4 linked regions of the Homo sapiens genome follow. The protein of the gene in region 3 interacts with the protein of the main gene of each other region in a biochemical or structural test. Each region holds a gene or a part of one and is shown on either strand. Other genes may lie near its edges.

Region 1 (6,859 bases), on a different chromosome or scaffold from region 3:
CTGGGTTTTGGTATCTTTTAAAAGCTCCCCTAGGTGATTCTAATGCGCCGCCAGCATTAGGAACTGCTGTTCTAGAAAAGCAGCCTGACGTGTGCTTTTTTTCCTATTGGAATAATTTCTCTTGGACCCCAGCTCAGCCTCTCATTAGCTGCCTGGTTTTGAACAGTCTCCCTGAACCTCAGTTTCCCCTTCTGTAAGTGGGGCTGTTAGGAGGACTAAGTGAAACTCTGCTTCACTGTGTCTGTCCACCCTTCCCTGTGTCCAAGGAGAGCTTGTACGTTTCTTCTGCTCTGAGACTGTTTGGCTGAACACAATTCAATAAGCATTTATTAAAAACTTATAATGTGTGAGATGCTGCCCTTAATGATGTGAGAATAAAAGGATGAATCAGGCTCGGTCCCCACTCAAAAGAGCTCACATGCTAATGGGGGTGACGAGGCATGTGTCCAAAATATGAAGCAGGAAGTAACACCGGCTACGGAGGAAGTAATCATGGTGAAGGCCATTATGTGTGAAGCACTTCGCAGTTTATTTTAATCCTCCCAACAACTCCACGAGGCAGCTACTATTGTAACACCCACTTTTACAGGCCAAGAAACTGAGGCTTAAAGAGAGGACCAGTTACCCACAGCACAAGAGCCAGGCTTTGGTGCTGTGGGAGCCCAGAGGAGGAGATTCACACCATTAGAAAGGCTGGGAGTAAGTTTTGTGGGGAGAAGTGTGGACACAGTGCTTTGAAGAATGTGTAGGAGTTTGATGGGTAAATACAGAGAAAAGGGTATCCCTGATAAGAAACCAGCATACACAAGCTCAGAGGAGGGATAGCTTCTCTTCTTTAGAGACCCGGAAGTGATTTGATTTTGCTGGAATGGAGGTTGAGTGCAGGGCATGGTGGGAATCACGTCCTGGTTGGAGGCCTTGTTCGCTAGGATAAGGAATTTAGATTTTTAGACTTTATATCTTTTTTTTTTTTTTGAGACAGAGTCTTGCTCCGTCGCCCAGGCTAGAGCACAGTGACACGATCTCGGCTCACTGCAACCTCTGCCTCCTGGATACAAGCAATTCTCATGTCCCAGCCTCCCGAGTAGCTGGAATTATAGGCGCACACCACCACGCCTGGGTAGTTTTTATATTTTTAGTATAAAATTATTATATTTTATATTTTTAGTAGTAGGGTTTTGCTATGTTGGCCAGGCTGGTCTCAAACTATTGGCCTCAAGTGATCCTCCCATCTTGGCCTCCCAAAGTGCTGGGATTATAGGCGTGAGCCACCACACCCAGCCCAAGATTTTATATCTTAAGCAATGGGGAGCCCTTGAAAACTCTTGAGCAGGAGGTGGCAGTTTTAGAACAGGGCTAAAATGGTCACAGGTTATATGGGAGAGAGAGGGTGACAGGGAGCCCAGGGACGAAGGGGGCAGCTATGACAAAGGGTCTGATGAGGGATGATAAAGCAAGTGGGTGGGGAGGGGGGAAGGGGAAAATAGGCACATGTGAGAAGTGTGCTGTTGCTACACAAAGCTTCCTTGGGCATCAGTTGATCCCTTATGTGTATTTGCTTATTGACTGAGCCCTACCATACCAGGAGTGGGGGAGGGCAGGAGCAGAAGACAGAGGCTGGGGCAAGTGGACCTCCCAGGGTTCTCACTCCACATGCAGCTCCCCTCGCGACTGGGATATGGTCAGTGGGACATGACCCATTCTGTTGAACAACTCTGCAGAAGCAGGGAGCAATTGGTTCTTGGGCCGTCTGCTACATTTCCGTGATGGAGGTGGCAGAGCTGGCCCAGCGACCTGAGTCTTCCTGACCCCAGCCTTCCAGGTGAAGCGTGCCACCCTGCTCACCTCCCACTGCCAAGTTCACTGCCAGCTCAAGGCTCACAGCCTGTGTGTGTCATGCCCAGCACAAACCCTCCCGGGCTGAAGCCAGTTCCCAGAGGCAAAGTCTGGATGTGGAAAATGCACCAGGCTGCAATCCTGCCACTTGCCACCAGGTGACTTTGGGCACATCCCCTTAGCCCCTCTGTGGCCTAAATTGGGGCATTAAACACAATCAGGTAGTACAGGTACTGCACCCTCCACCCCCACCTGCCCCATCCTCTCTGGTTAACTTTCCTGGAGAATCTCAAGATGTTACAGAGACAAGCAAAGCAAGTCACTTTCCATATTCAAAGTCCCAGGCCATTTTAGTACTTCTGTCATTCTGTGGACCCATCAATATCATACCCATTTTAGAGATGGCACAACCAGGACCCAGAGACTTTTCATGACGGCCCAGGGTCAGATATCTAGGTAGTTACGGAGACAGGACTTGAACGCCAGTCTCTCAGCCAATGGAGCTGACCCCTCAGGTGCCCTCCCAGACCCCTGCGTCCTCTCATGAGGTAGGGAGGCCAGATCTGGGTTGGGGGTGAGGCTGGCAGACATCCCTGAGGTCCAGGGATCTGGAACTGAGGGACACAGACACAGCATCCCATCCCTTTGCTGTATCACACAACGAGAACATTCTCTTTTAAGCCTCCTGATATGTGAAGGAGAAAGTCTCTGTTAGGTGCTAATGGGTATTTAACACCTCTCCAAACCTTGCCAATCTCCCTTTTTCACTGAGGGCACACATCTCAAGCCTTGGCAGGCCACGGTTTCCAGCTGGAATTTAATAACCTTGCTTTGTTTTCACTGTGCTTATTTTAACTCTTACTTTCTATTTATGGCAAGTGATACTGATTTCCCATTTAAGGCAGTGATATAATGATTCTCTAAAAAAACGTGTTTAAGGGGTGGGGAAAGTGGATCTGATATTTTAAAAAATATATTAAGTAATAAGTGGTGTGGAGATATGGCCCAGTGAGAAGGCCCGATGTCTGGCCTAGGTCAAGCCCCTCATTTAAAGGTGGGGAGGGAGAATGCAGGCAGGAGACGCAATGCTCAAGGCACCTGGTGTGTCCCCGTCGGCCGTGGTCTCTGAGACTCGCATGCCTCGAAGACCTCTGGCTACTAAGCCTAGGTGACTCCCCGCCCCTCTGGGCGACACGTGCATGGCCCATGTGCCAGTCCGCAGGGTCCCGTGGGCACCGTGAGCTCGGGAGGGAGGCGGCGGCTGGGACAGGCAGGTTGGACACCTGGGAGGGCACCCGGGGACTTCCGCGAAGGAGGAGGGCGCTGGAACCGTGGCGCGCTCGACCTGGCCGGGCGCAAGCCGCTGGAGACCCCGGCCGAGTGGGCAGGCGGCCGGACCCCATGCGGGTCACCTGCGGCCAGGCCGGGCGTGCGTGTGAGCGCGTGCGCAGACGTCAGCCTCCGAGGCCCGGGCCGCCTTCTGGGCAAGGTGCGCGCGCCCAGCGGCCCCGGCCCCACGCGCCCGGACACGCGGAACCGCAGACCGCGGCGCCCCGGAGGCCGCGAAAGGGATGGGCGGGGCCGGGCCGCGGGACCCGCCTCCCATTGGCCGGGCGCCGGGGCGAGGCGGGGCGCCGGGGTGGGGCGGGGCGAGCGGGCTCTGGGGGGCAGACGCTGGCGCTGGGCGGCGGGAGGCGCGGCTCGCGGGGGGCCGAAGGAGCAGGTGGGCGACGCTCGCAGGGGCGCGGGAGGGTGCCGCTGGGACCGTCATCAGGAGCCTGGGGTTCTGCCACCTTTCGGAGGGATCAGCGACCTCTTCGCCCTGCGGGTGACAGTGGGGCATCTGCCTGCGAGAGGGGGAAGGAGGGAGAACCCAGGGCCACACACAAAGTTCTCCTCATCTGGGGACAGGAGGAGGTGAAGGAGGAGGAGCCGGGTTGATGCTAACTTGGAGCTGCGAAACCTTGGGGCGGCGTTCAAGGCCCCCTCCCACACGCGCGCAGAGCAGAGCGCCCTGCTCCTCCTTCAGCTGCTGGCGTCGCCGCGCGGGGAGAAAGAAGCCGTCCCTCCGGCGCTGGGAGAGCTGCAGAGCCGCGGGCAGAGAAGGAGGCCGCGGCCGAGCCCGGCAGCCCGATACCCCCCATCCGAGCGACCCCCTTTGGGGCAGGCGGAGAAGGTGGCATAGGCGACCAGGAGGGTTCGCCCACCTGGGACACGCACCCACAGTCACCTCCAAAGGACCCCCCCTCCCCAAGTCTCTAGGAGCTGCTCCTTCATCACTGGAGTCGCCCCTACCTCTCTGCCCCCAGCCCGAGAGCCCCAGGCGGGGACCCCCGGATCGGACGTCCCCAAGCCTCCGGGCACCTGGCTCAGCAGGAGGCCCCCGGCTCGGGGCAGGGCAGGGCCGGCGGCGGCGAGCCGGAGCCCGCCCCCTGCCCGGGCCCCGCCGAGCCCTCGGAGCCCACCCATGGGGCACCTGCCCCTTGCGCCTCCTTGCCCGGCCGCGCCCAGCCCGGCGTCCCGAGCAGCGCAGGGGAGGATCCCCGCGCAGTGACCCGGGAGCCACCACAGACTCTGGGAGGCTCGGCGGCTGGAGCAGCAGGCAGCTCCCCGCAGCTCCCGGCGCTTCCAGGCAGCTCTCTGAGCCGTGCCAGAGGCCCGGCCCGCCATTCCCAGGTAGGAGACGCCCCAACAGAGCTGGGCATCTGGGGGAAGTGGAGCAGCCGGGAAGAAAGGGTAGAGGCTTGGAGGAGGAAAGCTCAGTGATTCCTTAGATGACCAGAGAAAGTGAAATTGATTGAGCACCTACTATGTGCCGGGATCGTCTGGCAACTTTGCATACCTAGAGAGAATTAAATTCGTTGAGCACCTACTGTATGTGTCAAACTGAGTGCTATACCCTTGACTTAATCCCAGGAAAGAAAGATTTATTGAGCTTCTACTATGTGCTAGTTTTGGTGCCACAGGCTTTGCATTTAAAGAGCTAGAGTAATAGCCCATTTAAATAGGAGGAAACGGGGGCTCAGGGAAGACGAGTCAACTACCACAAACACTCCTGTCCCTCTTCTGGAGCTGGCTGCAGCCTGCATTACCTGGAGGTGGGGAAGGAAGATTAAGAAGCTCCTTCGTTATCCAGAGTTCTTGAGCTTTTTCTGGGTTGGTGCAGAGTGAGTTTCCTGGATGATTCCCTTCCCAGGAGGGGTTTCCTGTAACTTAGCTGTCTTGGAGGGCCCGGAAGGCAGCTCTGGAGGCCTCTCTGTGCCCTCCCCTCCCCTTGTCCCCAGCACCAGGAGGATGACAGGGGATGTTGTCCAAGACCTCATGGAAGGTGGGAAGCCAGGCTGGGAGGGAGCAGCCAGGTCAGGAGCCAGTGAATCAAGCCTCCTGTGGTGTCAGAGACAAGATGGGGTCCCTGCAAGACCTGCGCCTGCATTCCAGTCCAGCCTCACCAGGCTGCTCTAGGCAGCCCCACGACTGCCAAGATAAAGTGCCACGAAGAAAAGAACCCAGCATGTGTTCAGGTTTGCTGCGGGTCAAGAGCTGGGTCAGCCTCCAGACTTATTGGAAACCCAGGGCCACACAGGGGGTTTATGTCTTACCATTAACAGAGGAATAACCTGAGCCCCAGGAAGCCAAGTCATTTGCCCAGGGCTGCCGGGCTGGTGAGAGGCAGAGTTGGCCTGCCAGAAGTGGATGCCTGCCTACCTTCTACCACCTGAGCTGCCAAGGGTGGTGGGGTTGGCTTTGCCAAGCTCCCGGACTCTCAGAGTGGCAGCTGGAAGCCAGTGATGGCAATGTGCGTGTCCAAAGAGGCTGAGTGTGCACTGATGGAGGAGGCATGGGGGTGTGGAGGAGGGGCAGTGCAGTGAAACAGGCTCTGGGGCATACACCGGGAGGACACGTCCAGACTCTTGTCCTGCTGCCTGTGCCCGTGTGACCCCTTCATCTTTCAGGCAGGCCCTGGGAGAGAGGCTCAAGGGAGAAGTGGTGAATCCACAGGTGCACTTGCTCAGAGGTGGCTGGCAGGGTTAGGGGAGAATCCTGGGAGGTGCCTGCCCCCTTTCCGCTCCGCTGCCTGCAGGGAGAGAGGGAGTGAGAATATAGTATGTCTCGGCGTCATCCCCCCGCCTGATGCCAGCTGAGGCTTCACTGAGACAGACAGTGTTTTGGAAAAGACCAGTTTTGGCTGGGGGTGGGTTTTCATAGAGTTAAGAGCCCAGACTTTGAAGCCAAACAGCCTGGTTCTGATCCCAGCCCAGCTAGTCATCTGCTGTGTGAACTGGGGCAAGTGACTTAACCTCTCTGAGCATCAGTGTCCCCATCAGTCAAGTGGGCTGATGGATGCCTTCCTGGCTGTGGTTACTGTGCCCCCAGGATGGCGTCCCCTCATCTCTGCTCTGGGAACTTTCTGGCTTCCACCTGTCCTCAGAATGGCCCTGTGATGGGGTCAGTAGTCACAGTATGTGCATTCAGATACCTGTGCCGCTAGGGGGTCTCCGTTGAATTTCCTGCCTCTCTGAGCCTCCTCTCTCTGATTCCTTACTTCCCCTCTCTGATTCCCTGCCTCCTCTCTCTGACTTCCTGAAATCCATTCAGTCACTGATATTGGACTCTAAATTCCCAAAGGGCTCTTCAAACTCATCCCTGTCTGCTCCTCGCTGTATGAGGTCAGCCTGGCTGAGGATGGAGAAGGGAGAACAGGCTGCAGAGGAGAGATGTGCCTACGAGGGTGCCCATGGTGCCACCTCTGGGGGAAGAGAGGGAAGAAAGATGTGGAGGCAGGAGGCGGAGCCCACAGAGGCACTGTCCCCTGGCGTCCAGGTGTCCAGATGTCTCACACAGCCCCACGTGGCTCAGGCCATGTGAAGAATCAGTCTTCTCTCAGAGATAAAAACCACAGAGGATTTTTTTTCTCTTTTTCCCCACCCTGATTCCCTGTCTCTTATTTCTGACTCCTTGCCTCCTCTATCTGTCACCTTGCCTCCTCTCTCTGACTCTTTGCCTCCTCTCTGACTCCCTGCCT
Region 2 (7,025 bases), on a different chromosome or scaffold from region 3:
TTCCCCAAGTCTATTCCTGACCTACATGAAGGGCTCCCCAAGGCCTGGGCTCCCCCGCCGGGGACCTCATCTGGCATTTGCCAAAGACCACCTGCTTGGGAGCCCTGCTCTACTGCAGATCTGAGACACTCATGTCCTCAGTGTCCCTGCATGGGCACCTCTAACTCAACATGGCCACCTCCCAGCCTGCCTTGTCCTTGGTCTCCCTAATCTCGGTAAGGATAGCCCTGTTCCTCCAGGTACGCAGGTTAAAAATCCTAGAGGCTAGGCCGGGCGCGGTGGCTCACGCCTGTAATCCCAGCACTTTGGGAGGCCGAGGCGGGCGGATCACGAGGTCAGGAGTTCGAAAACATCCTGGCTAACACGGTGAAACCCCGTCTCTACTAAAATACAAAAAATTAACCGGGCATGGTGGCACATGCCTGTAGTCCCAGCTACTCAGGAGGTTGAGGCTGGAGGATCGCTTGAACCCAGGAGGCGGAGGTTGCAGTGAGCCGAGATCGTGCTACTGCACTCCAGCCTGGGCAACAGAGTGAGACTCCATCTCAAAAAAAACAAAACAACAACAACAAAAAAACCCTGAGGCTGGCAGGCACCTGTAATCCCAGCTACTTGGGAGGCTGAAGCACTAGAATTGCTTGAACCCGGGAGGCAGGGGTTGCAGTGAGCTGAGATCACGCCACTGCATTCCAGCCTTGGTGACAGAGCAAGACTCTGTCTCAAAAATGAACTAAAACCCAAAACCCTAGAGGCACCCTCACCTTTGTCCTTTACCCACATATTCACCTGGGTACCTTCAGCACATCCTACTGCTCCCACATTTTTTTGTAATGCAGTTTTGCTCTGTCACCCAGGCTGCAGTGCAGTGGCAAACCACAGCTCAAACTCCTGAGCTCAAGTGATCCTCCTGCCTCAGCCTCCCAAATAGTTGGGACTATAGTACTCAGTCACCAAGCCTGGCCTGACCTCCACTTTTATTTAATTAATTAATTTATTTATTTATTTATTTTTGAGATGGAATTTCGCTCTTGTTGCCTAGGCTGAAGTGCAATGGCACGATCTCGGCTCACAGCAACCTCTGCCTCCCAGGTTCAAGCGATTCTCCTGCCTCAGCCCCCCGAGTAGCTGGGATTACAGGCACACACCACCATGCCCGGCTAATTTTGTATTTTCAGTAGAGATGAGGTTTCTCCATGTTAGGCTGGTCTCAAACTTCCAACCTCAGGTGATCTGCCCACCTCAGCCTCCCAAAGTGCTGGGATTACAGGCGTGAGCCACTGCGCCCGGCCTCCACTTTTAAAGTCTGGCAGAATCTGCCCACTTCTCTCCTCCTCCCTGGCCCCACCCTCTCCTGATCTAGGATGCGGTGACTGGAGGGGCTTGAGTCCCAGTGGAGAGGAGTCGGCCTTACCTAGAGCATTGTGGGCTGGTTCCCTGGGGAGGGGGCCTCCAGCCACCTGGCAGCTCAGGGACCCTACCTTAATCTTAGTGAAGAACTGCCGGAAGCAGGCCCGGGGGTCCACCTTTAGGCTCTTGGCCAGCTCCAGGATAAATTGCATGACGATTGTCTGGTGGGCCACCTGCTCCATGAGTGCACATTTCTGCCAGGAAGAACAGGCACAGCGTCACCAAGTGGCGGCCTCATGGCAGCGCCTTTTCACAGTCCCGGGGAAAGCTCCACTCACCTCCTCCACCTCTAGGTCAATGCACCAAATGACCAGGTAATTGGCTGTCTCCTCGCACACCAGGTGGACGTTGTCTGACAGGTACTTTTGGCTGTCATCCCAGCGGCGAAGCATGCCTGTGGGAAGATGCTGGCAAGGTGCTGGAGGGCCCTGGAGGCAAAGGGCCTGCCTCGACCTTGCCCCCCATAACCCACAAGCCCCACTCACCAAAGTGCTTGATCTGTTTCTCGTATTTTTCCACGAAGGTCTTGTGTTTCTGCTCCCTCACCTCCTCTGAGTCCTCCTCCGTCTTCTCGGGCTTGGTATTTACCATGCTCTGTGGTAGGGTGAGAGGGGGAGTGGGCTGGGGCAAGGCTGCGGAGCGCCTCGAGCGCGGCCGGGCGGGCCGTGGTCGCAGCGCCCATCCCATCCACGGCGGAGGTGGTGACGAAGCCATGAGCATCAAGGTGGCGGGAGCGTGGGCATGGGCCTTGGGGCAGATCAGAGGAGGGGACCGGTGGGGTGTTTCATCCGCCCGGCCCCCCAAGCCTGTCCCCCCTCCCACGTGGCCCCCGTCCATCCCTCAGCTCCCCGCCCCCCACCACACTCTTCAACTACACCACCGGGGTCCTCCCCTGACCAGGCATTGGGTGCGCATGCGTCCTGGTTGCAGGCTCTCTGGCTGCGCATGCGCACTGCCCGCCCCGCCCGCCCCGCACACCTTGCTGAAGCCGTCTTTGCTGAGCGTGTCCACGTTCCAGGGCATGCTCTTCTCCTTCTTGCGCATCTCCTCCAGCTTCTGCTCCCAGCTCCGCTCCTCCTTGCGCAGCTGCTGTGCCTCGGCCTGCAGGCGCTCCAGCTCTGCCTTGCCGCCCTCGGCCACCTCCAGCTCCTTCAGTTTCCTCTGGCACTCGGCCACCTTGCGCTTGCACTCGCGGCAGCCCCTGTCCAGTTCCTCCTTCTCCTTCTGGAACTGCTCCATGCGTTCCACCCGGGCCTGCGGGCAGGGACGGCCTATCAACTCTGGGGAGTCGTCTGTCCCTTACCCCCGCCCCATACCCAATCCCTGCACCGGAGATGGCCCCAGGAAAAAGTACGCGTCCACCTCCCGTGCCCTGGTCTCCCAGCTTCCGCCCCTGCGCCCACAGGTGCCAGCGCACACCCAAGTGGGGTCAGGTCCCTCCGTCCTCTGCTCAGAACCCTGGCGGCTCCCATCTCACAGCAGAACCCAAGTTGTCACCACAGCCTACATGGGCCCTACACAATCTGCCTCGGCACCTCCCCTGGTAACTCTTCCTTCCAGCTACACCAGCCCCTCACTTTTCTCACCTTTTCTTGAGGCCATTTTTTTTGTTTAAGAAAACAAAACAAAACAAAACAAAAAACAGGGTCTCACTCTGTCGTCCAGGTCAGAGTGCAGTGGCCCAATGATGACATACTGCAGCCTCGACCTCCCTGGGCTCAGGCGATCCTCCCACCTCAGTCTCCCAAGTAGCTGGGACTACAGGTGTGCACCAGCACGCCCAGCTAATTTTTGTATTTTCAGTAAAGATGGGGTTTGCCATGTTGCCCAGGCTGGTCTTGAAGTCCTGGGTTCAAGCGATCCTTCCCTCTCGGCCTCCCAAAGTGCTGGGACTACAGGCGGGAGCTACTGCACTCTGCGGAGCCCACTTTTTTCTTGAACCTCAAGGCCTTCGCACTGGCTGTTCCAACTACTTGGAATGCTTTTCCTTCAGAGCCCCCCACAGCTGACTCCATGGCACCCGTGCCATCTGGGCTCCATGTTGCCTTAGCGAGGACCCCTTCCCCAACCACCTTCCTGATGATGGCAACTTCCCGCTGCCCCTGTCTGGAATTCCCTGCCTCCTCAACATCAGCAACCACTAACATCATATGACAATTATTTATCACGTTTTGGGTACTGCCCCCCTCCAATGAATGAAGCCCTGCTCTCTAAATATGGGAACGTGTTCGCCATTTTGTTCCCAGAACCAGGAACGTGGCCTGGTGCAAAGCACGGGCTCAGCAAATGCTTGTTTTTTTTTTTGTTTTTATTTTGTTCAGTTTTGTTTGAACAAGGTCTTGTTGTCATGCAGACTAGAGTGCAGTGGTGTGATAATGGCTCACTGCAGCCTTGATCTCCCAGGCTCAACCTGCCTCAACCCCAAGTAGCTGGGACTACAGGTGCACACAAACCACCAAGCCTGGCTTTTTTTTTTTTTTTTTTTTTTTGAGACGGAGTCGCCCAGGCTGGAGTGCAGTGGCGTGATCTTGGCTCACTGCAACCTCTGCCTCCCGTGTTCAAGCAATTTTCCTGCCTCAGCCTCCTTAGTAGCTGGGATTACAGGCACGCGCCACCACGCCTGGGTAATTTTGTATTTTTAATAGAGACGGGGTTTCTCCATGTTGGCTGGTCTTGAACTCCTGACCTCAAGTGATCCACCCACCTTGGCCTCCCAAAGTGCTGGGATTACAGGCATGAGCCACTGCACCAGGGCCCCTTCTAGATGTTTCTTTGTTCCACCCATAACCTTGCCCCAGGATCACTGCCAAGGCCCTCTTAGCTCTGTCTCCAGCCCAGCATGCCCTCCTGAGCCCCAGCTTGGTGTCTACCTGCTTCCCGCTCACCCCAGCCCCAGATGTCACTCCCCAGGCACTCCTCTTTCTCCTTATAACAGTGCCTCATCTCCTCAGGCTCCTGGTCCCCGCCTCACTCCCTGTCTCCCTCAGACCTCCATCTGGGCCCCATCGGATTGTACAGGCCTCTCCTGAGACCCCTGCGTGGCTCCACCATCACCTCTCCTGAACCTCAGTGGAGGCTGCTCTATCCAGAGCCACTAATCAAACCCTGAAACCCTGAAACGTGCCACCACCTTCAATTGCTGACCCTCTCCAATCCAGGCACAGCTGCCACCAGGGAGGCCTGTGAAGCCCATGCATTTGACCACGTGACCAGAGTCCTCCCCACTACATCTTGGGGGGTCTGAATTCAGATGGGACTTCTGATCCTGGCATCCTGGTCCTGGGTCCCAGGCAGATACTGGCCCTCATCGTTCCCCGAAAGTACGGGCTCTGTCTTGCCTCTTGGCCTCTGCATGTGCGGTTCCCTTACCTGCTTTTGCACCCAAAACTCAGCTTCAACAGAGCCTTCCCCAAATGCTCCCTGCCTGAGGCACCACTGATCCCTAAAGGACCTCCTGTGACCATCTGACGATGTGGTGAGGGTGCTGGAGGACAGCCTTGGGGCAACGGCCCCTGGGTCCTAGCCCACAGCCACCATGTACCGGCTGGGTATCCCGGGCCATCCCCTAACCTCCTGTAACCTCAGTTTCCTCATCTGTCAAACAGTCAACAATGCTGACTGCACAAGCTCATATTGGAAGAAACTAAGGAGATGATTAGAGTAAAATGTCCCGAGCCATGTGGGCCCTCAGCACGCACCCTTCCTGTACTGGCCAGGGTCATTACCATCTGTGCAAGAGAACAATCTCTCTCTCTCTCTGGGGACCACTCTGGGGCCTCAAAAAGGAAATGTCCTTCAAATGCTTAGTTTAATTTCTGGCCCAGAGTACACGCTCAATAACTGGGAGTGGTTGTTACTACATGGTCACAGCACCCGGCTGTGCCACTGACGGGAGATGGAACTTTGGCCATGTCACTGAAACCTTTCCCAGCCTTGGTCTTCCCCTCTGTGAAATGGAGTCTCACAGGATCGCCGTGAGAACTGAATGACTAACTCTATGGAAAATGCTTCCAAAACAGCCCTCAGTAGGTGTGTCCCACTGTTACCATCTCCGTCCTTGTCACTGCCACCTGAATGGTCTGCTGACTCATTCCTGTGCCTTATCTGAGGCTGTGTCCCCAGGTTCTAAGGCAGGGCCAGGCAGAGCTGGCCCCTACTCTAATACCCCAGGGGACTGACACAGCCAGCCTGAGCCTCGGATTCCCCTATATGTATAAGGGGTCAAGAAGGCCTACGTGGTCGAGCGTGGTGGCTCACTCCTGTAATCCCAACACTTTGGGAGGCCGAAGCGGGTGGATCACCTGAGGTCAGGAGTTTGAAACCAGCCTGGCCAACATGGTGAAACCCCGTCTCTCCTAAGAACACAAAAATTAGCCAGGCGTGGTGGCAGGCGCCTGCAATCCCAGCTACTCCAGAGGCTGAGGCAGAATCGCTTGAACCCGAGGCAGAAGTTGTAGTGAGCTGAGATCGCCCCACTGCACTCCAGCCTGGGCGACAGAGCATGACCCTGTCTGAAAAAAAAAAAAAAAAAAAAAAAAAGCTATACCTCATGAGATAAACAGCAGCTGCAGGCTGGGCACAGTGACCCATGCCTATAATCCTAGCACTTTGGGAGGCCGAGGTGGGAGGATCACTTGAGCTCAGGAATTTGAGACCAGCCTAGGCAACATAGTGAGATTCCATCTCTTAAAAAAAAAAAGTTGCTGGGTGTGGTGGCTCATGCCTGTAATCCCAACACTTTGGGAGGCCAGGCGGGCAGATCATGAGGTCAGGAGTTCGGGACCAGCCTGGCCAACATGGTGAAACCCCATCTCTACTTAAAAAATACAAAAATTAGCCGGGCATGGTGGCGCGCACCTGTAGTCCCAGCTACTCGGGAGGCTGAGGCAGGAGAATTGCTTGAACCTGGGAGGTGGAGGTTACAGTGAGCCGAGATGGCACCACTGCACTCCTGTCTGGGCAACAGAGTGAGACTCCGTCTTAAAAAAAAAAAAAAAAAAAAAAAAAGCAGCTGTGGCCTCTCCAACTCCCTTTCTCCACGATGGGCCTGTGTCACCCTGGAGCCTGCCCACCACCCTGCAATCCGCTGCTGGGCTGCCACCAGTCTCCCCTGTGTCCTCTGAACAACTGCCAGGGAGGCCGCAGCTAAAAAAGGCCTCTTGGAGTTGGCGGGGGCGGCAGCCTGCCCAGCCTGGGCTTTACACCTCCTATCGGGGAGGGGCTGTAGCAGGCTGGGCAGGGGAGAAGCCACCCCAGCAAGCAGGGCCCACAGATGTCACTACCCTCCTGCCTTACAGTTAGGGAAACTGAGGCTCACAGAATCTCAATGTCATACAACTCATTAGAAGAAACCACTAACAGCAGCTGTCTCTGGGCAGGAGAGCCGGCGAGCTGGGGCTGAGAAAAGGGATTCATTTGTCCGCTTCTGGAAACTTTGAAATTTTTTTTTTTAAGAGACAAGGTCTTAGGCCAGGCTTGGTGGCTCACACCTACAATCCCAGCACTTTGTGAGGCTGAGGCAGGTGGATTGCCTGAGCTCAGCAGTTTGAGACCAGCCTGGGCAACATGGTGAAACCCTGTCTCTACCAAAAAGTACAAAAATCAACCAGGCATGGTGG
Region 3 (7,025 bases):
CAGCCTACCAAGTAGCTGGGACTACAGGCGCATACCACATGCCTGACTAGTTTTTTTGGTTTTAGAGATGGGGTCTCACTATGATGCCCAGGCTGGTTTTGAACTCCTGGCCTCAAGCAATCCTCCCTCCTTGGCCTCCCAAAGTGCTGGGATTATAGGCATGAGCCACAGAGGCTGGCCCTAAATACATTATAGAATAAAAAAGTATGAGAGGCCAGGCACAGTGGCTCATGCCTATAATCCCAGCATTTTGGGAGGCCAAGGCGGGAGAATCACTTGAGCTCAGCACTTCGACATCAGCCTGGGCAACATGGCAAAACCCCATCTCTACAAAAAATACAAAAATTAGCTGAGTGTGGTGGCACACACCTGTAGTCCCAGCTACTCAGCAGGTTCAGGAGGGAAGATGGCTTGTGCCTGGGAGGTCAAGGCTACGGTGAGTGGAGATCGCACCACTGCACTCCAGCCTGGGCAATGGAGTGAGACTGTGTCACTCACAACACAAAAAAAGGGTATGAGTATAAAGTAACTACAACTGTGTGTATCAACTTATAGAAAAACTTTATTCATTTTTTTTTTTGCTTATTTTTCTTCTTACACCTCACAAGGATGAAAGAAAGTGTTCTTTTTAAAAAGATGTCATTAATTGTGTACATAATGTATCCCTTTGAACAACATTATACACAAGTTTAAGAGGGAGGAAAAAACCCATCAGATCCAAATATAGCCAAATTCAAAGGTTCTGGTTTGCCCATTACATCTAAGTAGCAATAAGAAGAAAAGGAGGGCTGGGCGCAGTGGCTCAAGCCTGTAATCCCAGTACTTTAGGAGGCTAAAATGGGAGGATCAATGGAGGCCAGGAGTTCGAGACCAACCTGGTAAACATAGTGAGACCCCCCCCCCGCCATCTCTAAAATAGTAAAAATAATAATTTTTTAAAATGCAAAAAGCCTACAACCACTTCACAGTCATTAGGGTTGTTATTTTATTTATTTATTTTTTGAGACGAAGTCTCACTCTTGTGGAGTGCAATGGCGCAATCTCAGCTCACTGCAACCTCTGCCTCCCGAGTTCAAGCGATTCTCCTGCCTCAACCTCCCAAGTAGCTGGGATTACAGGCATGCGCCAACAAGCCCAGCGAATTTTTTTTGTACTTTTAGTAGAGACGGGGTTTCACCATGTTGGCCAGGCTGGTCTCGAACTCCTGACCTCAGGTGATCCGCCCGCCTCGGCCTCCCAAAGTGCTGGGATTACAGGCATGAGCCACCGTGCCCAGCCCAAGATTGTTACTTTAAAAATTAAAAAAGAAAAAATAACAAGTGTTGGAAAAGATGTGGCAAAACTGGAACCCTTGTGCTTTGCTGGTGGGAAATGTAAAATGGTGCAGTCACTGTGCAAAACAGTTTGGCAGTTCCTCAAAAAGTAAACACAGAATTACCATATGATCCAGTAATTCTACTCCTGTGCATTACCCTAAGGCACTGAAAGCAGGGGCTCCAACAGATATTTGTACACCAATGTTCACTGCAGCATTATTTACAACAACCAAAAGGTGGAAATAATCCAAGTGTCCATCACTGATGAGGAGATAAACAAAATGATATATTCATACAATGAAATATTATTCAGCCATAAAAAGGAATAAAATACAGATACATGCCACCACCACATGGATAAACCTCAAAAATGTGCTAAGTAAAATAAGCCAGACAAAAAAGGCCAGATAGTGTATGACTCCCCTTACATGAGGTACCTGGAATAGGCAAATTCATAGAGAGAAAGTAGAATAGGGGTTACGAGGAACTGGGCATAGGGAGGAATGAGGAGTTCTTGCTTAATGAGTACTGTTTCTGTTTGAGGTAACAAAAAGGTTCTGGAAACGAGTAGTGGCGATGGTTTTAAGACATTGTGAATGTTGTTAAATGTCACTGGATTGTAGATACACACACACACACCCCACCCCCAATCCGCCCCCTTCCAACTTACATAAGACAGCCTAGGGGTCCATTTTGCATTGTCAGGCAATACTAGATAATACTAGCCAGGGAAATCACAATCTCTCCTCTCAAAATCACACTATAATGCTGGACCAGACTAAGGTCAAAAATGGTAGAAGATTATCATTTATCCCCCCATTCTCTCTGGGTATAACTTTCTTCCATATCTAAAACCTATGAATGCAAAAGGAAATAGCCAGCATGGTAACAGCTGCTTGAGCTGAAGAGTCAGTGTCCTGCTAAAGCAGGCAAATGTCATCAAGGAGCTAGCAGGCAGAACCTAGAGCACTCTACATATAATGCCCAATAGAGGGAGAAGCTTAAGCAACTTACCTCCTCCAACAGACAGGTCCTAAGTTACAAAGTTCTAAGTTTGAATTTAGTAAGTGTAGCCTCTTTACTGTAAGCATTTTGGAGAGATGGCAGTAGAGTGAAACTAAATCCATAAGTGATTAACCTCTGATTAATGTTTGCTGTGTAAGACAAGGTTTTGAGAACTGGAGATATATAAAAAAGGATAAGACATGCCCCACTGGAAATATATAGGCAAGAGTAAGACATGCCTCATTTTTAAACTGAGACATAAGACATCTATACAAGAAATTCAACTTGGCCACTGCGGTGGCTCACACCTGTAATCCCAGCATTCTGGGAGGCTGAGACAGGTGGATCATCTGCAGTCAGGAGTTCAAGACCAGTCTGGCCAACATCATGAAACCCCATCTCTACTAAAAATACAAAATTTAGCCGGGCGTGGTGGCAGATGCCTGTAATCCCTGCTACTTGGGAAGCTGAGACAGGAGAATCACTTGAACCCGGGAGACAGAGGTTGCAGTGAACCAACATCACGCCACTGTACGCCAGCCTTTGTGATAAGAGTGAAACTCCATCTCGGGGAAAAAAAAAAAAAAGAGGAATAGATAAAAGTAAGGAAATGTCAGCCTCTCTCAATTAGATAAGGTCCTTGAAGGTAGGAACTTGCCTTATGCTGCACCAAGTGCACTGGCCTGCACCTACAGGGGCCTAAAAATACTGGCTTTTGATTTCCACTAAACATACTATTACTATGAGAAAGCCATGTGAGCAAGACACAGAAGCAAGAATTGTATATACTTAGTCTGGTAGCCAGGGAGAGCCTGGAAGATTTGAGCAAGAAAGTAAGGCCAGCACATCTACCCTTAAATATTTTTGTGTCGTCACAAAATAGGATACATAAGAATTCACATTTCCCTCTGTGAAAGGAAGCTGGGTAGCTAGAGAACAAAGGAGAACGTAGAATAACTATGCACAACATAACTTTCTATATCCTTTAAATTTTGTGACATCTGACATTATTACTTACTCAAAGAAAATAATATTTAATTCTTAAGAATTTCCAGGCAGGGGCCAGGCGCAGTGGCTCACACCTGTAAATCCCAGCACTTTGGGAGGCCGAGGTGGGCAGATTACCTGAGGTCGGGAGTTCGAGACCAGTCTCACTATCATGGAGAAACCCCATCTCTACTAAAAATACAAAATTAGTCGGGCATGGTGGTGCATGCCTGTAACCCCAGCTACTCAGGAGGCTGAGGCAGGAGAATCGCTTGAACCCAAGGCAGAGGTTGCGGTGAGCTGAGATTGTGCACCACTGCACTCCAGCCTGGGCAACAAGAGCAAAACATCTCAAAAAAAAAAAAGTACACAATAAAATGGCTTTTATTATATTCACAGTTGTGGATCCATCTCCATAATTGTAGAACACTTTTATCACCCAAAAAAAAAACAAAACAAAACAAAACAAAACAAAAAAAAACCCTATCACAGTCACTGACCATTCCCTACATCCCTCAGCCCCTGATCTACTTTCTGTCACTAAGGATTTTCCTATTCTGGACATTACATATAAATGGAATAATTCAATATGTGGTCTTTCCTGCATGGTTTCTTTTACTTAATATGTTTCCAATGTTGTAGTATACACCAGTACATCCTTTCTTTTTATTACTGAGTAACATTCCATCACATAGTAGTGCTTCCATATCCACTTGGAATATGTTCCAAGACTACCAATGAATGCCTGAAAGCAAGAACAGTATACTATACTGTATACACTATGTTTTTTCCTGTACATACATACCCATGATCAAGTTTAACATATAAATTAGGCACAGTGAGAGATTAATTATAATTAATAATGGAACAATTATAAGAACATAATATCATAAAAGTTATGTGAGGGCTGGGCGTGGTGGCTCACGCCTGTAATCCCAGCACTTTGGGAGGCTGAGGCAGGCAGATCACCTGAGTTAGGGAGTTCAAGACCAGCATGACCAACACAGTGAAACCCTGTCTCTACTAAAAATACAAAATTAGCCAGGTGTGGTGGCGCATGCCTGTAATCCCAGCTACTCAGGAGGCTGAGGCAGGAGAATCGCTTGAACCCAGGAGGCAGAGGCTGTGGTGAGGAAAGATCATGCCACTGCACTCCAGCCTGGGCAACAAGAACGAAACTCCGTCTCAAAAAAAACAAAAAAAGAAACAAACAAAATTGACTGCCACTGCCTGCTGCTTCCCATTTATTAACAAAAAATGTAAACAACCTCTAAATCATAAAGATTTTAAAACCGTAAACTAGCTTTAGGATTGTTAAGCCCCACCCAGTAAAACCCCTTAGAATCTGGTCTAAAAATAAAACCGTGTGTCAAGTGTTCCTCAAAAAATGCTATGTACACTGATTGGAATGTGATGCCAATTAACATACTTTGTGAGTAATTTGCCAAACTTTAGATAGTCTAGGCCAAAACCACTAACAAAGAAACAACACCCACTTGACATTTTCCTTAGTTAAGCTGAGATTCTAGGGGTCATTTTAGAAGAAAGGCAAACAGATGTGAAATTAACTAAAATCATTTAGAGCTACGCAAGTCATTCTGGGAGAAAAGAAGTAACAAAATGACTCAAACATTGTAAAATTAAAGATCAAACCTTAATGTGTAATTAAGGAATTTTTACTTACAACTCTAAGGCAAGAAAAAAATAGCCATTACTATCATGAGAATTACAAGGCAAGATGCCTGAGCGAGCCTGTAATGCCAGCACTTTGGGAAGCCGAGGCAGGTGGATCACTTGAGGTCAGGAGTTCAAGACCAGCCTGGCCAACATGGTGAAACCTCGTCTCTACTAAAAATACAAAAATTAGCCAGGCAAGGTGGCCGGCGCCTGTAATCCCAGCTACTCGGGAGGCTGAGGCATGAGAATCCCTTGAACCTGGGAGACGGAGGTTGTAGTGAGCCAAGATCACACCACTGCACTCCAGCCTGGGCAACAGCACCAGATTTCATCTCAAAAAAAAAAAAAAAAAATTACACGCAAGATAAGTTAGCCCTATACCAAAAGTACCAACTGAATTGCAACACAAATATCTAGTATTACATTTTGAACCCAGTCAGATGAGCAATTAGGAATTCTACCCTCCCATACACATACCAAACAACCTCATCCTAAATAAACCCAGTGTTCTCTGATTTTCCAATTAATTTATTCAAGGTAAGTAATTTTCCACCTCATAGTCATTTGTTTTGAAGAAATGACTCCCAAGATCTGAACAACTTAAAAACAAAAACTAAGTCAAAAAGCTCAATTTTATGGTTTCATAAACCCCCTCACTGTCACATTATCCACTGCCTTTCAAAGGCAATATTTAAAATTGTCTTCTGCAAGTCAACATTAAGGCATGCTGTTTGGCTAACAAGCTCCTCCCAAGCTCAAGATTATTATGTATGGCCTATTATGATCCTAACATGCAAACAAAAGTACTCCCTCATGTAACATTTTTTTAGGCAGTAGGTTACTAACAAAGATTTACCTGAAATTTAAATGTAGAATCATACATTTACTAGTAATAGACTACCTGAAATAGTAGTTTAAAGTTATCAATTATATTTTTTATTTCGTAAATAATCCAGTGCTTCTGGAAAAGTCAAATTTAACTTCCAAGAAGTATGAACTTGCTTAATCTTCAGAGCAAACAAATGACATGTTATAAACTAAAAGCTACTAGTCTAAGAGCAACTGTAATATAATACTTGATGTTTAACATTCTTCACTTCATCTTTTAGATACTTTTTGTCAGAAATTACCAGCTTAATCTGCTTCTCACTGTTTTTTTCAGCTAAACCAAATCCCATAAAATACGTTCAAGCCTTCTATTGAAGGCACACTTTTTTTTTTTGAGACAGGGTCTCACTCCATCACCAACACTGGAGTACAGTGGCATGAACATGGCTCACTGCAGCCTCAATCTCCCTGGGCTCAGGTGAGCCTTTCACCTCAGCCTCCCAAGCAGCTGGGACTACAGGCATACTACACCATACCCTGCTGATTTTTTTCTTTTTGTGTGTGTGTATTTTTTGTAGGGACAGGTTTTCACCATGTTGCCCAGGCTGGTCTCAAACTCCTGAGCTCTAGCAATTCACCAGCCTCGGCCTCCCAAAGTGCTGGGCTTACAGGCCTGAGCCACCACAACTGGCTGATGTTTTTACAACTACTGACAAGACTTTAACAAAACTAAGGAACTCCACTACAATTTATAATCACAAAACACCACATATCAGCCAGGCACAGTGGCTCACGCCTGTAATCCCAGCACTTTGCAAGGCCAAGGCGGGTAGATCACAAGGTCAGGAGTTCAAGACCAGCCTGGCTAATATGGTGAAATCCCGTCTCTACTAAAAACATAAAAGTTGGCTAGGCGTGGTGGCAGGCGCCTGTAGTCCCAGCTACTCAGGAGGCTGAGGCAGGAGAATGCTTAAACCCAGGAGGCAGAGGTCGCAGTGAGCCAAGATCGCACCACTGCGCTAAAAAAACACCACATATCTTTAAAAGATAAGCCTTTAGTACAGAAACAGTAACAGGTTTATTTTTCCAAGTATCCCAGCATTCAACTGGGTCAAATGTTTATGTTGCATTTTAAACAGCTTAGCCCTTGAGTGATAAGGGTAAAAACAAGCCAAAATAATCCTGAATGTTCTTCAGTGGTATATAATCATC
Region 4 (7,025 bases), on a different chromosome or scaffold from region 3:
TGGTCAGCACTCACCTTGGTGAGAAGCACCACTGGAGCCAAGGCCACAGGGATGATGGGAAGAGAGTTCCAGGCAGAGAGAAGGGCAGATGGTAAGGCCTCGAGGGCAACACCTGCTCCTGGCTAGGGTGGGCCTAGGGGAGGGGGTTTAGGAAAGGGTATTTGGAGACCTAAAGTTGAAGGTCATTCTAAGGACTCTGGCATTGCCTTTGAGTAAAAACCTGGAAAGGATTTGAGCAGAGGCAGCATGGTCAGATTTAGACATTCAGAGAGTCACCAGGGAGGTGGTGAGAAGTAGCTGATCCCTGGATTTATTTTTAAAGCAGAACTGGCAGGATCTGCTGATGGACTGGATGTGGGGTGCGAGGGAAAGAGAGGAGTCAGGATGATGCCAAGGAATTTTAAAAAAACTATTAGGCTGGGCGCGGTGGCTCACGCCTATAATCCCAGCACTTTGGTAGTTCGAGGTGGGCAGATCATGAGGTCAGGAGATAGAGACCATTCTGGCTAACACGGTGAACCCCGTCTCCACTAAAAATACAAAAAATTCTCTGGGCGTGGTGGTGGGCGCCTGTAGTCCCAGCTACTCTGGAGGCTGAGGCAGGAGAATGGCGTGAGCCCGGGAGGCGGAGCTTGCAGTGAGCAGAGATTGCACCACTGCACTCCAGCCTGGGTGACAGAGCAAGATTCCGTCTCAAAAAAAAAATTATTATTGGCCGGGCGTGGTGGCTCACACCTGTAATCCCAGCACATCGGGAGGCTGAGGCAGGCAGATCACTTGAGGTCAGGAGTTCAAGAACAGCCTGGCCAACTTGGTGAAATCCTGTCTCTACTACAAATACACAAATTAGCTGGATGTGGTGGTGGGCGCCTGTAATCCCAGCTACCTGAGAGGCTGAGGCAGGAGAATCACTTGAACCCAGGAGGTGGAGGTCGCAGTGAGCTGAAATCCTGCCACTGCACTCCAGCCTGGGTGACAGAGCAAGAGTCCGTCTCAAAAAACAAAAAATAAATAAAAATAAAATAAATTAGGCCAGGCGCGGTGGCTCACGCCTGTAATCCCAGCACTTTGGGAGGCCGAGGCGGGCGGATCACGAGGTCAGGAGATCAAGACCATCCTGGCTAACACGGTGAAACCCCGTCTCTACTAAAAATACAAAAAATTAGCCGGGCGTGGTGGTGGGTGCCTATAGTCCCAGCTACTCGGGAGGCTGAGGCAGGAGAATGGCATGAACCCGGGAGGCAGAGCTTGCAGTGAGCCGAGATGGTGCCACTGCACTCCAGCCTGGGCGACAGAGCAAGACTCCGTCTCAAAAAAAAAAATTATTATTATTATTATTATTATTATTTTATTTTATTTTTGACATGGAGTCTTGCTCTGTCGCCCAGGCTGGAGTGCAGTGGCACCATCTCAGCTCACTGCAAGCTCTGCCTCCCGGGTTCACGCCATTCTCCTGCCTCAGCCTCCAGAGTAGCTCGGACTACAGCCTCCCGCCACCATGCCCAGCTAATTTTTTTGTGTGTTTTTAGTAGAGATGGGGTTTCACCATGTTAGCCAGGATGGTCTCGATCTCCTGACCTTGTGATCCGCCCGCCTTGGCCTCCCAAAGTGCTGGGATTACAGGCGTGAGCCACCGCGCCTGGCCAAATTATTATTAATTTTAGAGACAAGGTCTTGCTATGTTGGCCAGGCTGGTCTTGAGCTCCTGGCCCCAAGTGATCCTCCCACCTTGGCCTCACAAAGTGCTGGGATTACAGGCATGAGCCACAGTGCCCAGCCAACACCAAGGAATCTGGCTTGAGCACCCGGTAGGATGAAGTTGCTTTTAATGGAGAAGAAACACTGAAGGGTGAGGGAGGATCTGGAGGCTACCCTAGAGGGTGGGATAGAGGGGGATTTTTTTTTTTTTTTTTTTTTTGAGATAGAGTCTTACTCTGTCACCCAGGCTGGAGTGCAGTGGCACGATCTCGGCTCACTGCAACTTCCACCTCCTGGGTTCATGCCATTCTCCTGCCTGAGCCTCCCCAGTAGCTGGGATTACAGGCATGCACCATGCCCAGCTAATTTTTGTGTTTTTAGTGGAGACGGGGGTTTCACCATGTTGGCCAGGCTGGTCTCGAATTCCTGACCTCGTGATCCACCCGCCTCAGCCTCCCAAAATGCTGGGATTACAGGCATGAGCCACCGCGTCTGGCCGCTAGAGGTGGCTTTTAAGCATCTGGTGGGATTTTTAGCAGGGTGCTAGTGGGAGCTGGCAGGGACTTGGAGTCTGAACCAGAGTTGTGCTTGTCTCAGTCCAGTTAGGGGTAGGGGCTTCAGGTGTGTGCAAAGGAAGGAATGGTAGATGTGGGGTCCAAGCTGGCTGAGCTTCAGGGAAGGGAGCAAGCCCTGGGAAGCCGCAGCATCGTTGGAGTTGGGGTCCCGGGGGCATGATCCACACAGGTTGGGTCAGCTGGTGGGAAGCTTGGGATGGAGTTATTTGATGGTGACAAGGCCTAGGTTATGTCCCTGGGAATGAGTCTGAGGGGAGAGTGGGACAAGATCATGGTAGAAGGAGTAGCAAGGTACAGAAAGGAGACAGGGTGCTGGTGGAGTGGCAGAGGACAGGAGTAACATTCTGCACAGGCCAGGGACGACACCTCCCCCCAGCCCCAGCTGCAGACCCGTAGGAAAGAGGGCTGCGGGAGAAGACAGCTGCCAGGTGAGGACAGAGCTGGATTTCTTAACCTTTTGATTTAGTTTTCAGTGTCTCCAAAAGCAAGTGGTTTCCCAGAAAAGATCAGCAAGTGCCAGTGCCCCGCCAGAGCCACGGGGCCTCTGCCCTCTCTACCTGCGCAGAGCAACTCACACTTGGTTCGGTCACTCCTCATAGTCCCTGCCACCAGGCCCCCCTGCTGGATGGCTGAGGTGTCCCCAGGGCAGGGACTGCAGCCACCTTGTGCTGTGACAGCCCACACAGCCCAGTGTCTGAAACAGGTGTGGACAGTGGAGAGGCAGAAAGAAGCAGCCCAGTGCTAGCCCCTGGGCCAGACTGCAGGGTTCAAACGTGGCTCTACCCTTCCTAGCAGGTTGAGCTTGAGCAGGTTAATTAACTCCATCTGCCTGAGTTTCCTCATCTGTAAACGGGAATAGAACTAGTCCCACCTCGCAGGGCTGTGGCGAGGACCTGATGAGTTAATATAGGAAAAGTGCTTGGAAACAGTGCCTGGCGCAGAGGAGGGGCTAAGTGTTTGCGGCTCTTATTATTAGAACTGCCATTGTTATTATTTATGTATATATATATTTATATATAAATATATATATATAATTTTTTTTTCCAAGATGGAGCCTCACTCTGTCGCCCAGGCTGGAGTGCAGTGGTGCAATCTCGCCTCGCAGCAACCTCTACCTCCCAGGTTCAAGTGATTTTCTTGCCTTTATGTACATTCTTGGCTTTATATATTTATAAAGCCTCAAATTTCTGGGCTCCAGCCATCCTCCCACCTCAGCTTCCTAAGTAGCTGGGACTACAGGCGCACGCCACCATGCCTGGCTAATTTTTTTATTTTAATTTTTGTAGAGACAAGGGTCTTTCTGTGTTGCTCAGGCTGGTCTCGAACTCCTGGCCTCAAGCAGTCCTTTTGCCTTGGCCTCCCAAAGTGTTGGGATTACAGGCATGAGCCACCACATTGGGCCTATATTTTTAAGTTATGGACAAAAATCCAAAGAACTATATTTTGTAACGTGAACATTCTATGAAATTCAAATTTCAAGGTCCCTAAAGAAAGTGTTAGTGGAACACAGCAAGGTGCAGTGTATTCATTTACACATTGATTATGGTTTCCTTTCAGCTCTGGCCACAAAGGTGAGTGGTTGTCACAGAGACCACGTGGCCCACTGAACCCCCTTTATAGAAAACATTTTCAGCTAACTTAGGAAAAGGGAAAAGAAAGTGAACAAACATTTGCCAGCCAGCCTTTCATACCTGTAATCCCAGCACTCTGGGAGGCCAAGGCAGGAGGATCACTTGAGCTCAGGAGTTCGAGACCAGCCTGGGCAAGATGGCAAGACACTTCTCTAAAAATTTTTTAAATTAAAAAATTAGCCGGGCATGGTGATGCCTGTAGTCCAAGCTACTCAGGAGGCTGAGGTGGGAAGATCGATTGCGCCTAGGATTTTGAGGCTGCAGTAAGCTGAGATCGTGCCACCCCACTCCAGTCTGGGTGACAGAGAGAGACCCTGTCGCTGTTTTTTAAAAACAAAAAGGAAACATTTGCCAACTTTAGAGTACTTTCTGATTTTATGAGCTCTGAGCAAGGTTGGGGGTGTTCTCTGCAGGCCTGAAGGGGCTTCTGTACCGGAAGGCTATAGTCAAGGCTGAGGCCTACAGGTGCCGGAGGCGGACAGGCTGCGAGTGTCTGCCCAGGGTGGGGTGGCAGCACTGGCCACTGTGCTGGCCACTGACGTCAGCCTCCCCCGGCAGCAGATTGTGTGTGGTCGGCATGTGGTAGGGGCAGGATCCAAACCCAGCCCTTGCCTGATGGCAGAGCTTCACTGCTCCAAACGGTCTGGAACACCACTGTTTTAATTAAGTGTGCAATTCAGTGTGCAAGTGTCTTGTAATTAAGTGTGCCTCTGTTTCCTCATCTATAAAACAGGGAGAACTTCGTATTCTCCTTCTTGGGAATCTGAGGACTCTGAAAATCCCAGTGCAGGGATGCTCGCGGAAGCATCAGCAGGGATGTCCGCCCCAGCCGCTGACTCAGAAGCCCAACACGCAGAGAATGTAAAGCTAGAGGTGCCATGCTGGGGCCTGGGGCACTTCTAGCCACAGCCACTACCCTCCACTTCCACACCCAGCTCCGGGCCAGGCTCTAGGCGGATGGCAAGAGTGGGCAGGCCTGGGCACCCACCCACGTTCACACCCAAGGAGGAGCCACACCCCTTCCCTTCCCCAGAGAAGGGAGAGTCTGGCCCAGGCCCTGCCCCAGCCCTCTCCTTCCCCCAGGGAATTCACAGACACTCCCCCAGGGTTTTTCCCTGTAAATAGAACACTTTTTAAAAATTCAATTTAGGGCTGGGCACCGTGGCTCACGCCTGTAATCCCAGCACTTTGGGGGGCCGAGGCACTTGGATTGCCTGAGGTCAGGAGTTAAAGACCAGCCCGACCAACATGGTGAAACCCCGTCTCTACTAAAAATACAAAAATTAGCTGGGCATGGTGGCGGGCACCTGTAATCCCAGCTACCCAGGAGGCTGAGGCAGGAGAATCATTTGAACCTGGTGAGCAGAGGTTGCAGTGAGCCAAGATCACATCACTGTACTCCAGCCTGGGTGACAAAGCAAGACTCCCTCTAAAAAAAAAAAAATACATATATATATATATACACACACACACACACAAATATATACACACACACACACATAAATATATGTATATTTGTATTTACATATATATAATTCAATTTACACAAATGGGTATCATCTTGATAACAACTAGCTTGGCTAAGTCCACGAATTTGGTGAAAAACTCCCACCCCATAGGACAGGTTCCTGGCAGAACTGGTGCTAGCAGAAGGCCCAAAGGGGCCTTCCCCAGCCTAGGCCTCCAAGGCAGCCCAAGGTACAGCTGGAAGGAGCCTGGGGCATGACAGCTAAGCACACAGCCCCTGAAGCCACATTGGTTGGGTTGGGATCCCAGCTCTGCTACCTACTAGATCAGTGACCTTGGGCAAGTTACCTATGCTCTCTGCCTTAGTTTCTTCCTCTGTAAAATGGCAACCATGAGGAACCTCCCTGATAGGGTGTGGCAAGGATCAAATGAATGAATACACAGGGAGGGCTTCCGACCATCCACCATACCTGCCCAGTGTCTTCTGCTTGTTCTGATCCCTGGGCAAGGGGCAGTGCCCAGGCCAAGTGCCTGGGTGCAAGTCACTCACCTTCCACCTGTGGGGCCTTGTGTCCGGCAAGCGTAGTGGTCCTGTGGCCCCACTCAGAGCTAGTGGAGGAGAACAGCTGCCGTTTCCTGCGTATTTAGGTGGCTAAGCAGGCTGTCCCAGCCACACGGCCTCAGGCAAGTTCTTAACCTCTGCCTCTGTTTCCTCATCTGTACAACAGGGAGAGCTGGATATTCACCTGGCTGGGACTCTCAGAGGCCTCAGGCTATGAGGGGCCGGTAGGGGGCTTTCCTGCTCTCATTTGTTGTCATGGCGATCCTGGCAGATGGGGAACTGCCCCCATTTCACAGAAGACACTGGGGCCCCAAAGGGTTGGAGAATGGGCTAAGGTCAGAGCAGGAATGTGGCCAGGGCCTGGCCCACCTAGCTGACCCCTGCTCCACAGTCACCGCACCACAGAACTGGAAATTACTCTGCAGACAGGCCTGTTCCGTCAGTGCCCCTTCTGTTCCCGGCTCTCCTGCCCCTATCCGAAATCCTTCAGCCTCCCAAGGTGCTGGGATTATAGGCATGAGCCGCCACGCCTGGCTGTCATCTGTAATCTTTACTCCTGACCTAGTATGCCTCTCCCCACTGCCACCTCACTCCTCCAGGGTCTTGAGGTATCCCCACCTGACCTGGGGGCAGCTCTGGGCTTTGGTGATGCTCAGAATGCCCAGGCACTCTGATCACAGCCTATCTTACCCTAGGCCTTTCCGGATTCCGTCCTCTCGTTCCCTTACTCGCTTTTTTTTTTTTTTTTTTTTTTTGAGACAAAGTCTCACTCTGTCTCCCAGACTGCCAGACTGGAGTGCAATGGTGAGATCTCAGCTCACTGCAACCTCCGCCTCCCAGGTTCAAGTGATTCTTGTGCCTTAACCTCCCTAGTAGCTGGGACTACAGGCCCACACCACCATGCCTGGCTAGTTTCTTTTTTTTTTTGAGACAGAGTCTCACTCTGCCACCCAGGCTGGAGTGCAGTGGTGCAATCTCGGCTCACTGCAACCTCTGCCTCCTGGGTTCAAGTGATTCTCCCGCCTCAGCCTCCTGAGTAGCTGGGATTACAGGCTCGCGCCACCACACCTGGCTAATTTTTGTGTTTTTAGT

The links.
Region 1: the proteins of RAF1 (region 3) and RASD2 form a complex in vitro, tested with the Homo sapiens proteins (2 studies listed by BioGRID).
Region 2: the proteins of RAF1 (region 3) and CDC37 form a complex in vitro, tested with the Homo sapiens proteins (2 studies listed by BioGRID, with this or other methods).
Region 4: of the proteins of RAF1 (region 3) and BAD, one has a biochemical effect on the other in vitro, tested with the Homo sapiens proteins (2 studies listed by BioGRID).

What each region holds. Positions count from the first base shown.
Region 1 is NC_000022.11:35,536,989-35,543,847, forward strand, and holds the start of RASD2 (GTP-binding protein Rhes precursor), read left to right. Parts: upstream 1-3,842; 5' UTR 3,843-4,512; intron 4,513-4,518; exon of another isoform or gene 4,519-5,632; intron 5,633-6,859. UniProt on the Homo sapiens protein: GTPase signaling protein that binds to and hydrolyzes GTP. Regulates signaling pathways involving G-proteins-coupled receptor and heterotrimeric proteins such as GNB1, GNB2 and GNB3.
Region 2 is NC_000019.10:10,393,543-10,400,567, forward strand, and holds part of CDC37 (hsp90 co-chaperone Cdc37), read right to left. Parts: intron 2,662-7,025; coding exon 2,386-2,661; intron 2,002-2,385; coding exon 1,893-2,001; intron 1,802-1,892; coding exon 1,686-1,801; intron 1,602-1,685; coding exon 1,479-1,601; intron 1-1,478. UniProt on the Homo sapiens protein: Co-chaperone that binds to numerous kinases and promotes their interaction with the Hsp90 complex, resulting in stabilization and promotion of their activity. Inhibits HSP90AA1 ATPase activity.
Region 3 is NC_000003.12:12,654,108-12,661,132, forward strand, and holds part of RAF1 (RAF proto-oncogene serine/threonine-protein kinase), read right to left. Parts: intron 1-7,025. UniProt on the Homo sapiens protein: Serine/threonine-protein kinase that acts as a regulatory link between the membrane-associated Ras GTPases and the MAPK/ERK cascade, and this critical regulatory link functions as a switch determining cell fate decisions including proliferation, differentiation, apoptosis, survival and oncogenic transformation.
Region 4 is NC_000011.10:64,274,656-64,281,680, reverse strand, and holds part of BAD (bcl2-associated agonist of cell death), read left to right. Parts: intron 1-7,025. UniProt on the Homo sapiens protein: Promotes cell death. Successfully competes for the binding to Bcl-X(L), Bcl-2 and Bcl-W, thereby affecting the level of heterodimerization of these proteins with BAX. Can reverse the death repressor activity of Bcl-X(L), but not that of Bcl-2.